Linked DNA regions of Homo sapiens. The protein of the gene in region 2 purifies or fractionates together with the protein of the main gene of each other region. This does not show direct contact. Each region holds a gene or a part of one and is shown on either strand. Other genes may lie near its edges.

Region 1 (2,304 bases), about 42 Mb from region 2:
TCCATCTCATTCCAACTCTAAAAGGTAGTAAGGACTGGAATTAACAACTCCAGATTACAGATGAAGAATCTGAGACTCAGAAAGATAAAGGAGCAGCTTTAGTGTCAAAAGGTCAGAAGTTTGTAAATGAAGAAGCTGAAGGTAGGCCCAGATGTGCTAACTGCTTGCCCAGCGCTCTTTCAAAATGCCACCTTGCCATCTTACAATGCATTATGCTGGTAATAGATACCCTGTGGATGTATCTGTATATCATATCATCACTGTCAGAAAAACAGCCTGAGGTTCTCTTGAATGACTTAAAGCTGACTTCCAGGCTGAGATGCGGCACTGTTAAGGGACAATGAGAGACCCACACAAATGTGCTGACAGCATAAACAAAAACAATTTTCACCAGTACCTAGTATGGAAAGGATTGCTGGCAGCACCTTGGCCTCTACCACCCTACACACACCTATAAAGCATCAGTCAGTCCCACCTCTTGACTGTATGCTTTGAGAACACGATTAAACAAGTCTGTTTAAAATTTCTTTTTTAAGGAAATCATTAGGTATATTCAAAAGGGTCATCCACTGTATTGTTTAGAATTTAAATGTACTAGAATTTTTCTGTGTTCTAATGTCTGATCAATTCTAAAATGCTAGTCAATTAATGGTCATCCATTTTCTTTTTTTAAAAAATGTGGCTCAACTACATGCAATGTGCTGAGCCAGTTTTGGAATCCACCCTGTAGCAGAGTAAAACTGGACCAAAGGAAGTGGAATCAGGGCCCCTGACTGTCACTTCTCCAGCTACACAACCTACAGTTTTTCTTCTTTATTGTGACGTGTGGTGATTCGTTTTGGATTCCTCTGTATGACAGGCAGGTCTGACCTTGAGGAAGACTGGTAGCCCACATCCTCTGCTTTTATGGGCTTAATGATATGGCCTGGCTTGGTGACGACCTTGGGAGTAGTCAGCTTTTGGAAAGCCCTCTGGGTGTTCCATGTGGATCCTATAGGGGTCTGGATGGTCCTTTCAAATTGCCGATGGTGGGTAAATGGATATGGAAGCACTTGTACCTGATGAGCTGCTGCGTGGATGTTGCGCTTCTCACTGATAATCACATTTGGCAAATTCTTATCTTTTCTTGGAGGACCCTCAGGGGCTTTAATGAGAAACTGGCGTCTTTTCTTGGCACTGGGCTTTAGGCCCACACCACCCCACTCGCCCCAGCCAGGTAGTGTCAGGTCCACGTCCTTTGGCTTACTCGCCTCCACAGCTTCCCTCTTCTCTTTCAAGAAATCTCTGATGACATCATCCCCAGCAAAAGCTTCCTTTATCATCTGCCTTTGGTCTCTCTCCTCTTCATCTTCCAGCTCCTCTATTATTGTGGGAACTGCCAAAGACCTCACGGAAGGAGACTGTGTGGTCAGGAAGTTCTGTAGGTTGATCAGTTGCTCCTTCTCTTTCTTCTCCTTAGGGGCATCAGGCCGATTATTTGGGGTCCTCTCTGACTGCTGTCCTTCTAACACAGGTCTGGGAAGCTCCTTATTTTGAAAACAATCTTCTTTTCCCAGCTCTTCTAGCTCTTCCAGAGTTTGTACTCTCTCTGACCTCTGTAGCAATAGGGGTTCCGCTTCTTCTGGGGCAGGTTCCTCTCTCTGGACCTGGGGAACAGTCCCCTCTGAACTTGCTTTTTGCTTCCTGGACTGATGTTTTTCCTTCAATTTCTGAGATAGTGCCCTCAATTCGGACAGCACCTCCTGGCTGCTAGAATCTTTTGTTTCTTGACTGCTTGCTGGCTCAGCATCCTGGTTGAGCTCAGATCTTTTTCTAAGGGATTGCCTTTCCTCAAATTCTCTCAACAAAATTTCTTCCTCTGCCACTGGTCTTTCTTCTGCCTCACTTGCAGAAACCTCATGAGCTGCAAGCTCTGGCACTTGCTCAGGGTCCTCCTGTGTTGCAGCCTCTTTGGTGTCACTGGTGCAGCTCCTGAACATCCAGGGATTCGGTCCGTCCACATTCATCTGCACTTCATTCGCTACATGAGGGACAAGGAGTTCTTCCACTTCTGTGCCTCCCTCCTCTTCCTCACTCTCAGAGGCTACCTGGAGTTTCTGTGTCAGTTCTTTGTTCTTGGCCAACTGTTCCTGCATAGCTTGGCGAGCCTCCAGGTCATATTTGGCCATAATTGCCTTTGACTTGGCCCATTTCCCACTGTTTTGGTGCTTAAGGCTCATTCTTTCCATCATTCTGGCATTTTCAATTTTTTCCATTTCTTCCAGTGCCACAGTTGGATTAACCTTCTGTAGCTGCTCAAACTCT
Region 2 (3,654 bases):
GCCACCGGGCCAAGCCATGTATTTATTTTGGTTTCATCTTTAGCTTGCTGTGTATTTTCTTCCTTCTCTAAATCAATGAACTGTTCTGTGTCATCCCTTTTTGTGGGCGTGGAGTGGACGCAGGAGGAGACACGCCTGCGATCCTGGGAGGAAGGAGTGTGTGCATGAGTCTGCTACTGCTGCCGTAACAACATCCCACAGACTAGGCAGCTTAAACACTGAAATTCACCCTCCCACAGTTCTGGAGGATGGATGGCTGAGATCAGGGAGTTGGTTTCCTCTGAGGGCTGTCTCCTTGGCTTGCAGATGGCTGTCTTCTCCCTGTGTCTTCATGTGGTCTTCCTTCCAAAACTGTGTCCAAATTTCCTCTTCTTTTGAGGACACCAGTCATATTGGATTAGGGCCTACTCTAATTACCTCATTTACCCTTAATTACCTCTTTAAAGACACTATCTCCAAATATAGTCACATACGAGGTATACTGGGGCTAGGACTTCGGGGACACGGTTTAGCTCATTGCAGTATACAGTGTATTTCATGTCCTGTTTCTTTGCTGGGAATGTGTCTAGGAAACCCTCTAGTGCTTAGTCCACTTGGAGATATAAACATTTAAGAGGAGACCATGGGAGGAAAATTGACTTTCTTTGCCTTTGTGTAAGCACCTTCATCTTCTCTTCCATTCAAATTTCAGAGTACAAATTCAGAAATTTCTTCCAAACGACATAAACCCCCTTCCTTTCCATCTTTCTGTTTTGTGAACTAGGAAACTTTGCCGGCTATAATTGTGGAGACTGCAAGTTTGGCTGGACCGGTCCCAACTGCGAGCGGAAGAAACCACCAGTGATTCGGCAGAACATCCATTCCTTGAGTCCTCAGGAAAGAGAGCAGTTCTTGGGCGCCTTAGATCTCGCGAAGAAGAGAGTACACCCCGACTACGTGATCACCACACAACACTGGCTGGGCCTGCTTGGGCCCAATGGAACCCAGCCGCAGTTTGCCAACTGCAGTGTTTATGATTTTTTTGTGTGGCTCCATTATTATTCTGTTAGAGATACATTATTAGGTGGGTTTTTTCCTTGGCTGAAGGTATATTATTACAGGTTTGTGATTGGGTTGAGGGTATGGCAGTGGGAAGTAATTTCATGCAAGTTAATTAAGAGAGCAACCACAAGGCAGCCTTAGGTTTATGAAAGTCGTAGAATTATCAAATACCGCCTGGAGTTAGAAGGAAGCAGTTTCTTCCTGTGCATTGGATGCAGACACTTTAAATGTTCTCTCCTCTACCGTATGTTCTTGGTTCAAAGTGTAAACTTTTCTCTGTGAAGCTGTTAATCATCAAAGATGTGAGTTGGTGAGGTGGAGGCGAATTCCTTTTGATTTCAGAAGAAAATATTTGCGAATCTGGCCATGGAAGCCCTCTCTGACCTTTTCTCCAAATTAGAGGAATTAACTGAACATGTGCTAAGGCACATGAAGCTTCTTTGTGCGGAATTAGAGTGCTCATGTTGGGAGTGGGCATCTTGTTAAACTCACAGGATAGATCAACTTTGGATGGATTTTAGACAGTCTATCACATGATAGACTTTCAGATAATCATTTATGGTACTCCTGCATGGTCCGGAATCCCCAGGTTTCTTGGAGCTTTATTGTCAAGGAAAAGTACAAGCTTAGCCACAGCAATGTAGAGTTTCTGCTGCTTAGCTCTTTGCAACACAGTCATGTTGGATGCTTGAGAAATTGGTGACCTGCCCTTCCAAGTCTTAAAAATTGGGGGCTGGGTAGGACTTGGAATGAGGGGGTTGTCTGTTACAAACTTCATGTATCAAGTAGGTTCAGCTTTGTCCTTATTTTTCAGTCAAAGGAAAGCCATAGACACCAATGTATTCCAGGAGGGCTTGACTCCATCCTAGATTCTTCCCATAGCAGTTCTTGAATGCATGGCTGCACGTGCACCTCTCCCCATTTTTGGGGTCCTTCATTGGGGTCAGGATGAATGAAGACATCAAGCTCACTTTGAAGAGCAAGATTCTGATTTGGACAGGTTCATCCTTCTGCTCATCACTTGTTCCCCTTCAATTGATACCCTCTCGTTGTTGGGTTCTGAGAATTTGAAACCTTGCTCTGAATTGAACATGAAAAAGGGCCGTGTAGCCAACATCAGGGACAGCAGTGCTTTTCTCAGTGTGAGTCTTTTAAAACTTGCCTTACAGGTAAGCATCTGTCTGTCTTTATCGATAGATAAGGAGGCTCTTTTGGCTATAAACCTTTATAGTTTTCCTGTTATCACTCTGAGGAATTATTGCTTTATGAGAGAGTACTCTCTCAAGAGGAAAAGAAAGTCCTAGTTTCTGGTCATAGCTACGAATTAAATTTATATTCACGTCTGTTCAGCTCTCTGAAGTTGTTATAGGTATTTTGGACAAGAACTAAAGTTAGCTAAAGTTTCCACATAACCATCAAAGCTGTTATGAAAAAGGGAAGAAGGATGGACCAGGCAGTAAGGAGGTCATTAAATCGTCCAGAGCTTTTCACTAAAATTGGCAGTTCCAGTGTCCAGCCTAAATGGCTTGAATGTATTTTTCTCTCTTCTGGTCTCAGCGAACATGCTTGTCAGCTAGTAGTTATAACAGATTGATGGGTGAGGCAAAATACGCGAAAGTTCTTTTTGGTTACATAAATACTGCATTAGGACTAAGTGCAGTTGAAGTTACAATATTATTAATTAATCCCTCCCTTTTAAATTTATATCTTTGTGAAGCATAGGTTAGCAAATGCCTTTAAAAAATATATTTCCTTTAGGTCTTAATGATCTATTCTTTTGGATAGTCTATTTCACCTGAATGGATTGTTGCTTACAAATTAAATATGTATCAGGGGCTCCCAATCCTGAAAGTCACCTGAATTTCCTGGATCTCTGCTAGAAATCAACCTTTTAAGAGATAAAGGAGGGTTTATCCTAAAAGTACTAGTTACTTCTGAAATTCATGTCATTACTATTGCTTTTGGAGATATAAATAACAACAAAACTTTTTTTTCTTACTACTATAAAACATCATGGACTTATTGGCTCTATAGATACAGCCCAGGTAAGATTTAACATTTTAAAAAATTCTATTCTGTCATCTCTAATATGTTTCCCAATTGTTTCAGGACCAGGACGCCCCTACAGGGCCATAGATTTCTCACATCAAGGACCTGCATTTGTTACCTGGCACCGGTACCATTTGTTGTGTCTGGAAAGAGATCTCCAGGTAGGTCAAAACTATGCATTTAGTTCTTTTAATTTTTTAAAAAATTTATTGTATATATTTAAGGCATACAGTGTGAATTTTGATATACTTATCTTGATACTCATACAAGATAAGTGATTAGTGCACTAAAGTAAATTAACATACTCAGCATCACATAGAGATATCTCTTTTTGTGTGTGTGTGGTAAGAGTACCTAAGGTCTACTCTCTTGGCAAATCACCAGTACACAATACAACGTTAACTATAGTCTCAGACCTCGAGTTATTTATCCTACATAACTGCAACTTTGCACCTTTCAGCCTACATCTTCCCATTTCTCCCAGTCCCTTGTAACTACTATGTAACTCTCTATGTATTCACTCTTTTTCTTTTTTCTTCTTTTCTTTAGATTCCACATATAAGT

What was found. Proteins that work in one complex are often made in the same cells at the same time.
Region 1: the proteins of DCT (region 2) and ALG11 purify together in Homo sapiens (affinity purification with mass spectrometry; one large-scale study listed by BioGRID and IntAct). This does not show direct contact.

What each region holds. Positions count from the first base shown.
Region 1 is NC_000013.11:52,029,599-52,031,902, reverse strand, and holds part of ALG11 (GDP-Man:Man(3)GlcNAc(2)-PP-Dol alpha-1,2-mannosyltransferase), read right to left. Parts: coding exon of another isoform or gene 798-2,304; 3' UTR 1-797. Other genes in the region: UTP14C (U3 small nucleolar RNA-associated protein 14 homolog C), read right to left, coding at 798-2,304. UniProt on the Homo sapiens protein: GDP-Man:Man(3)GlcNAc(2)-PP-Dol alpha-1,2-mannosyltransferase that operates in the biosynthetic pathway of dolichol-linked oligosaccharides, the glycan precursors employed in protein asparagine (N)-glycosylation.
Region 2 is NC_000013.11:94,466,155-94,469,808, reverse strand, and holds part of DCT (L-dopachrome tautomerase isoform 1 precursor), read left to right. Parts: intron 1-763; coding exon 764-1,063; intron 1,064-3,150; coding exon 3,151-3,251; intron 3,252-3,654. UniProt on the Homo sapiens protein: Plays a role in melanin biosynthesis. Catalyzes the conversion of L-dopachrome into 5,6-dihydroxyindole-2-carboxylic acid (DHICA).